Linked DNA regions of Homo sapiens: region 2 is linked to region 1. The links come from fine-mapping of genetic effects on gene expression. A gene starts in region 1. The other region holds a variant in brackets. All regions are shown on one strand. Distances are from middle to middle. Region 1 holds the start of WDR17 (WD repeat domain 17). Region 2 has its middle 63 kb from the start of WDR17.

What was found. PIP is the estimated chance that this variant, and not a neighbour inherited with it, causes the effect.
Region 2: its variant is the best candidate, but not a certain one, in a credible set for the expression of WDR17 in blood mononuclear cells (TOPMed, PIP 0.87).

What each region holds. Positions count from the first base shown.
Region 1 is chr4:176,063,397-176,067,796 of GRCh38, reverse strand. It overlaps WDR17 (WD repeat domain 17), which reads right to left and starts at 1,956. Exons shown (of 29, transcript NM_181265.4): 1 at 1,718-1,956. RefSeq lists a silencer at 1,701-2,080.
Region 2 is chr4:176,001,135-176,005,534 of GRCh38, reverse strand. It overlaps a transcript of GPM6A not described here. Among named protein-coding and RNA genes, the nearest start is that of WDR17, 63 kb to the left of the region's middle. The variant G/A (reference allele first, on the strand shown) is at 1,970.

The DNA of each region.
Region 1 (4,400 bases):
TGTCCCTCCTTTCCCAGACTAAAGGATACAAGATAGAGTCTGTAGAAAACAGCAACAACAAAAGCAATCTAGCCCTAGTCTCCCCTCTACTGGGAGCATTGTTTTTCTGGCCTAAATTAATTTATGGCTTTCTAATCTATGGAATTATTTATGTGACTAATGGGTAACTTAAAAATATTTAGAACACCACTATTTATCATTAGAAATAAGAAGAATAAAGAATGTTAAAACTTTCAAGTAAGCATATTTAACGTCTTCTTCAGATGTCCACAGTTTTTTAAGCAGTTCTATTAATATCAACACAAGAGAAAGTCAGAACAATGTAAACAATAACATTCAACTAGTTATTTTTACATAATTACGTTTGCAGAACTCAAGAGCTTTACTTTCCGTATATGCCCTTTGAAATAAGTCATTGCTTTAAAACTTCCCAGGAACTCTAAAGCTACCATTTGTAACATTAATCTCCAAACAATCCAGTAAAGGATGTTTCCCAAAATATTAACGAATTGACAACTTTTCAAAAGCACTTAATAACTATATTTAATTTTAGATGATAGGAGGGGAAAGGTTCTCAGACCACCTATCTCAGACGTCTGCCTTCAAAACAGTTAGATATAACTATATCCATTTTCTTGAACACTTAGGCCAGTGAGGCAGAATCTCAAAAGGATGTAAGAGTGCTTTCTCCACAGAGTTTGTTTCACCACCCGCCCAGCATCAGCTCCTGGCAAGCAGGGTAATGATAAGGCATAAATCTACAAATAAATTAATGCTTAAACTCTTGTGGAGTTCAAATTTATAAATTCTCATAAATTCATTGTCATTTATTTTCTAATTTTTACAACGCAGAAATGTTATTAGAGTGCTAAGAACGGCAACTATAATCTCACATTGTTGGGCTTTGGCCGTTTCGTATCCTTTTACAACGAACTTGTGTTTTTTTGATAGTTTTCTCTAAAGGGTATTTATGAAAGATTCAGAAATGTAGTATCTCTCTTCAAACCCTTGTTAAATATATATAGTATATATGTATATATTAATATGCAAAATAATTTATTTTTGATGCATGGTCGGACTTTTCATTACTTTTCATTCGAATCAATTGCTTTTAATTAATATATTTAAAAAGTCTCCTTAAATTGTTTGTTCCTTTCAATCTTTGCAAGCAAAACAAGTCTGATTTTGGAGAGGGGAGGACAGCAAAGATTCTATTTTACGATCTACTTAATAAATAGTATACCTGCCTTATATCCAATACCGTCTTTTTTCTGGAACGCATTTCCTTTTTACTCAAACCTTTCTTAGTACAACCCTACTAATAAGTCCATCTTCAAAGGGGTAAATGATCTATACAGAAGTGTCTGGCCGGCGGAGGGATGAGAACAGCAACCTAGGCTCTAGACATATACTTAATAGCCATAAAAATAAAACAATGTCCCTCGAAATGTCCACAGTTTACACTGCAATGGTAGTTTAGATACATAAATATTCGCTGCTTGCTGTGCCTTGTAAGAATCAGGTGTGTGGCTCTAAAACTCAGTTGATTATCTCATCAGGCACCATGGTGTGCAAAGCCCTGCAGGACGTACATTACCCTGGTCCGCGATCACAGGGAGGTCAGAGCCCCTCTCGCATGACGCCGCGACAGTTCCAGCATCACCCACATCAATCCTGAGCTTGCCTTGGTATCTCTGCGGCCCCACCGGCTTCTTACCTGGAGGAGGAGGCGGCTGCAGCGGCGGACAGCGGAAGGTGCTGAAGCCGGCGGGCGCAGCTGCGAGGCGAGCACCACCAACGCGCGGACCCTCCCCGCCCTCCCCGCCTGCTCGCTCAGGGCGCCCGGGGGCGGGGCGGCCGGGCCCGCGGGCTCCGAGGGGCGGGAAGCGTGCTCCGCAAGCCCCAGCGCGGAGCCACGATGGAAGGCGCCGCGAGCCCGATCTCCAGGGTCTGCCCCAGAGGCCCACGTGACAGCTACACAGGTCGCTGATTGGAGCGCCCGAGAGGGGGAGGCGGAAGTGGCTCGTGACCCTTGGAGACTAGGCTGAGGGAGAAGTGGTTACCTGGCAACAGAGAAAGTGTGTTGAAGGCGCAGCTCCTCCGTACTGGAGCGAGGCTTTGGGCAGAGGGTTTGCACTGAGGCTGAAAGTGGAGGAAAACGGTGAACCATCAGCGTTCTCACCACCTAACACATTTTATAGCGAGTCTGCACTTTCTAGGAAAATGAGTCAAATATACAGTAAGTCAGTCATCCTGTCTCTTTCTTGAGGGACCTGGAGGAGGGACTTGAACCAGTGCCTGGAATGTGAGTGCAGAATGCTGTCTCGCCTGCACTTCATTATTGTCTGATTGGGCCCAAGAAGGTCTGTGGGAGAGCTCAATGGATAAGATTATTTGTTTATATTAATCGAGTTGTATGTGGTTAATGTATCTGCCTTCACAAAACTGACATTTTCCCTGTGGGATCTGGTTGAATGGAAGTGCTGGATGTTGTCATTCCTACTGGATTCTTCACATCTCTGAAATATCTTCACTACCTGTGGCCTTTATCCAACACACTAGAGAGAATAAGCCTCGACGTACTCGAAACAAAGTGTATTTAATGACATCTATCGAGAATTAATTATACTCCACTCTAAATAGTTAATAAATGAATGGTCGACCTCAACCAGAGAAAGTCCCTGGGCCTAATTCTTACCTTCCTATGCAGTAGATTTTAATGCTCCTTTTTTCCAAAATATTCTCTGCAGAGACGAGTACCTACCACAGCACTCAATATTCTATATTGTAAATTAAAATTAACTTAAATGTTGGATTTCCATATAAAGAATAAACTTGTTAAAGCTAAAATCAGTTCTTACAACTCCGTCCCCTATATTCTAACAAAGTATCTGATGAATAGCAGGTCTTCAATTAATTCTTGATGGATAGATGGATAAAGAAAGAAAGAAATTAGCACATAATCTACCAGAGAAAGTATAAGGGCAATAACTAAATATAACTCAATGTGTTAAGTACTAAAATAGGGTTACATAAAAGTGCTATGAGATGATTTCAGATGAGGGAGGCAGAACTTTTTCTTCCAAGGTATTCAGAGAAGCTTTCAATATGATTAGTATTTGAGCAGGGACTTATAAATAGGTAGAATTTCACCTGATAAAAAGGGGAAAGTGTATACTATGCAGCAGGAGCAGCATTGCCAAAAGCATAAAGTGGGAAAAAATAAACGATTGATGTAAATAAATTTGATGTTTTTGCCTTCTCCGGAGTTGGGGATGTGAATCCAAAGATAAGAAGGAAGATGGAAATTGGCAAAAGACTGTACTAGAAAAATAAGAAAACTTGATTGGGAAAGATGCAGAATTCTATATATGGGTTAGGCTTTAACCTCTAAACCAAAGGAAGAGATTGAAGTTTATAAAATCAGTGCTTTTTCATCAAGAAAGACACCTTGGAAACATTGGAGATACATGGGATGCAGGAAGATGAAGAACATGGTCTGTTAGGAGAAAAATTCAGTAGTTCATGGGAAAAGATGCTGATGACCTGAGTTAAGACAATGAAAATAAGAATAGCGAAGAGGGAAAATCACAAGAAACATTTCTGTGAAAACAGACTATAGTTTTCATTTATGACTGATATTTGCTAGGTATAGTGCTGAATAGTCAATGGTGTACATGAAGAGAAAATGCTGAAGATACAACGTCTAGCTTAGTCCATCGGTTGGACGGAAAAAATCTTTTATGTTTATTTTGCTCATAATGGCTCCAGCTCTCCAGTTAAGAAACAAAAAACCGGCCGGGCGCGGTGTTTCACTCCCGTAATCCCAGCACTTTGGAAGGCCGAGGTGGGCGGATCACCTGAAGTCAGGAGTTTGACGGCAGCGTGGTGGTGAAACCCCGTTCCTACTAAAATACAAGATGAGCTGGGCGTGGTGGCGGGCACCTGTACTTCCAGGTCCTCGGCAGGCTGAGGCAGGAGAATGGCGTGAACCCAGAAGGCGGAGATTGCGCCACTGCACTTTAGCCTGGGTGACAAGAGTGAGACTCCGTCTCAAAAAAAAAAAAGAAAAAAAAGAAAAAGGAAAAAGAAAGAAACATAAAATTGAATGAGACAACTGAAATTATCTAGTTGTGCACTCATAATTTAAAGATGAAGGTGTTTAAATCTCCAGTCATATTAGCAGCAGATTTTGATAGAGTGATCCCGGTCTCCCAGTTCAGGACTCTTATTCCTTTACCAGAATTTAGTTCATTCCTTTTGAACAGATTTAAATAATCACAACTATAGTTAGATTAGATCTAGAGGAACAATATACCTAATTTATAAAACAAAGATCTCTTTACTCTGATTTTTTATTCTTTTATTCAACCAGTATTTAATGTCATATACTCACCTCA
Region 2 (4,400 bases), 62 kb after region 1:
TAACATGGTGAAACCCCGTCTCTACTAAAAAATGCCTGTAATCCCAGCTACTCAGGAGGCTGAGGCAGGAGAATCGCTTGAACCTGGGAGGCAGAGGTTGCAGTCAGCCAAGATCATGCCATTGCACTCCAGCCAGGGCAACAAAAGCGAGACTCCATCTCAAAAAAAAAAAAAAGAAAAGAAAAGAAAAATTTATATTCATCTCAGAATTTTACAAGTTTAGCTAAAGCCTTAATTTTGAGTCCCATGGTTGGTAAGTATCTCCGTTTTTAAAAAGAAGTGTTAGTTATATTTCCACAGGACTTGCTAAAAGGTGGTCTAGGCAATGAAACTGAAGATGCGGGATGAATGGGAAGAATATTTTGGAAACAGAACCTTAGGACTTGATGGACAATTAGGTGACAGGAATGAGAAAGCAGAAATACCGGATAATTAGAGTAAAAAAATAATGTACTAAGTAAGATAATGAATTAATTTATATGTTTATTGAATCCCATATAAAATTATGTAACTTGTTAGATTTCAGGGGAGATAATGGCCTCTCTATACCTGAGATCTAGGATACTGACACCATTTACATCATCACTGTAAGATAAATGAATTCAACATCAACATTTTGATCTATTCACTTATAATAAGGCAAAGGAAAGAAAACATCATGATTTTGATTATTAAAAGCCAGTATATGATGATTTGTATCTTTAGTGTATTCTAAATTTCATATATTTTACTGGGAATGTTAAAAATATTTATGAATTAGGCCAGGCATGGTGGCTCACGCCTGTAATCCCAGCACTTTGGGAGGCCGAGGTGGGTGGGTCATGAGGTCAGGAGATCGAGACCATCCTGGCTAACACAGTGAAACCCCATCTCTACTAAAAATACAAAAAAAAAAAAAATTAGCCGGGCGTGGTGGTGGGCACCTGTAGTCCCAGCTACTCGGGAGGCTGAGGCAGGAGAATGGCATGAACCCGGGAGGTGGAGCTTGCAGTGAGCCGAGATGGCGCCATTGCACTCTAGCCTGGGTGACTGAGCCAGACTCTGTCTCAAAAAAAAAAAAAAAAAATTATGAATTATATTTATTGTTGGAAGATATCACCATCTTTCTCAAGCATGTGGCAAACCAGTTGGATACTGAGAAACAATGTGGTTAACTGACTAAGATCATGAACTCTGGAGTATTTTGTCCTGGGTATGAATTTTGCATTCCCATTTATTATGAGAATTTGGGCAAGTGTTTAATCTCTTTGTGGATTAATTCCCTCATCTGTAAAGTGGGGATAACAGTATTTTCCTTTTTTAGTGAGAATTATATTAGCTAATATGAAGCCCTTAGTACAATGCCTGACACTTAGCACACTGTACTCAGTTTATGTTATAATTATTATTTTGTATTTCAGGATTATCATAGAATCCGATGGGAAAAAAACAAAAAACAGTTCTAATTTTTAGAATTCAAATATTATTTTGAATAAGTCTTCAGGAGATAGATTGTAAGTTGCTTGTGGTGATCCTAAAACTGAGCTTATGAATCAATCTCCAAAATCTATCACTTATCTTTTTTTTTTTTTTTGAGACACGGTCTCACTCTGTTGTCCAGGCTGAAGTGCAGTGGTGCAGTCTTGGCTCACTGCAGCCTTAACCTCCCAGGATAAAGTGATCCTTCCACCTCAGCCTCCCAAGTAGCTGGGACTACAGGCGTGCACCACCACACCAAGCTAATTTTTTGTTTATTTTTTTGGAGAGACGAGGTCTCACTATGTTGCCCAGGCTGATCTCAAACTCCTGAGCTTCAGGGATATACCTGCCTCAGGCTCTGTAAGTGCCAGAAGTACAAGTGTGAGCCAGCAACTTATATTTATTGAACAAATGTATTAGTGTTATGCTTTGCTACAGTCACAGTTCATGTTAGTCAATTTCTAGAAGGGTGATGCATTTCTGAATGATATGTTGAACACTTTTAATTTTT[G/A]TTGACTACTTCCTTTCCCCTCCCATAAGAATAACTGTATTCCCATGTAACTGAAGTGCATTTACACACCCCTGCCAGGAGTATACCTCTTCCATTACGTGAGAAAGAGCTGTGCAGATGTTTATGTGGCATTTGAATGATATGCTCTGCATTTATCCATGCATTCTGCTAAAAATATTGTTATTTATTTTTCATATCACCTTTTCCCCATTAGATAGCAATGTTCCTCAAGGTAAGTAATCATATCCATTTTATTTTATTCTTCCACTTGCTCACAGCATAGATATGTATACTTTTGGGTGTGCTTTGCATGAAAAAGCTGTGTACACCTTGGGGACTGACTTACTGAAATAACTTCTCCAGTATGACTCTTGAAAGAACTAGGTCAATAACCCATAGAGTTATATAATTTTTTTTTTTTTTTTAGCTTGAGGAGACCTTAGAGATCACTTTTTCCAGATCCTTCATTTTACAAATTAGGAAATGAGCCAGGATTACAACTCATCCTCTCAACTGTCAAGCCCTGTGCTCTTTCAGCCTCATCAACTGCCTCTTGGATTGAATTGTTTATTTTCCAGGTGATTTCTGCATATTATGATGTGTGTGTGTGTGTATGTCAGGGTGTGTGCATGTGTGTTTGAGTGTATGGTTTTTAGAACTTTATAACCTTGTCCAATTACAGAAACATATTTTATGTAGAAGAAAGAGGAGATGACAAAGGATAAATTAAAGGGAGAATTTTCTCTTCCTCTTGTCTTTATTAATGTTATTATCATTAAGAAACAAAATGGTACACAGAAGACAAGGGAACATAAAATTATCATATGAAACCTGTCTTTTGGAATAATCTATTTCCAGACTCCACTTAGAGATCATTATCTTGGCTACCGAGTCGGTTGTGGGGTGCTGAGACAACGTGTGTGTCTGTAATGTGCATTCAATGTATTTAGGAGAGAGACTTTGCACGTGTCTCTAATGAAAGTGAAAGGGGGCAGGGTGGGGGCCTCTGGGGAGGAGACCCACAGTGAAGGGGAGGAAAACGGGCTTCTCGCAGAGGAGGCAGGTGGAAAGAGGGAGGGGTCTGTGCGCCCGCAGAGTCGCCAGGCGCCCTGCGAGTTGTCTCCGCTGGGAGGGGCGAGGCTGTCACTTGCCAGGGCGCGAGGAGCCTCAGCGCGGCTTGGAGAACTTGGCCCCGCGCAGCGTCTGGTCACTCGCTCTCCTCTGGGGACTGCAGAGAAGCAGGACCTCGGGCCATGGGTGAGTGCGCGGGCGGGCGCGTACACCTCGCCCAAAGGCTCGGCCTCGGGAATGGGCATTATAGAAAGAAAATGAATGTTCCTCGGCCTCAGACTGCGTCCTTCCCAGCTCTGTTCCCCCCGCGCCTGGCGTCCCCCGCCCCCCGCCCTCTTGTCTCCGGACTTTTTTTTCTGGGAGAGAGGCGATGGCGATGGGGTGGCACCTGGAGGCGAGGGAGGGTGCCCGACTGTTTACAGTGGGTCGGGAGGGTGGGGGGCTGCGCTTGGGCGCTGATCCTCTGCGCCGGCCCCAGGACCCAAGCCTGGGGGTCCGGTCTACCGTGCTGGGGGCGGTATTTGGGAAATAAAGAAAGACTAAGAGACCCAGGATCCGAATAGCGAGGCGATTACAGGGAGATCTCTGTCCTCCCGAGTTCCCACGTTTTCATGTTCTCTTTGGGGAGCAAGTTGAAACGGGGCACGAGAAATGGAAACTTCCTAAAACTTCCACTTTGTACAGGTTTGAGCAGAGGAAGGTGCTGGTGCAGGGCCAGACTGGGGACAATTTCTAGTCCCTTTCCAAACGAAGTGCCCATTTGCACAAAAGGTTTGAGGTTGAGGCTGAAGGCTGATTCTTCCTAAATTCCACCTGGGTAAACAGCGTGATTAAAAGGGCGTCCACACTGGCTCGGGTCACTGGACGGTGGAGTTCGGCGCAGTTCAGCTTCGCTCAAGTTTCCAGGCAGGGTCCGCTTATTCGGTGCTTAGCGGAGGCAGCTTGGAATAGCTCCAGGAATGTGACTGCGTGTGGCGGAGGGGAGGAAGAACTGGGTGTGAAATAGCCGATTCACACCCAGCACTAGGACGCAGGGTCCCACGAGTCACCTCGAAGAGCGAGGGAGAAGCTGGGGAGGAGAAAGCACTCGCCATCCCTGGACTGGCGTATCCACAGGCGCAGGGGAGATGCTGCTCTTCCGCGGTTGCCGACTGCGTTCAGCCCGCAGCCCGAGTTACTCTTCCAACCCCAGCCCGCTCACTTCTTCCAGCCAAGTCCACTGGGCGCCCCTCCCCCTTGCTTCTCCCTTGTCCTTTGTTGTGAGGGATTTCTCCAAGAGTAAAGGAGGCCTTGGGGACTGACGTGCTCGGGTTGAAATTCCTGTATTCCCACAGGCTCAAGGGTTAGGGGATGCTTTGAC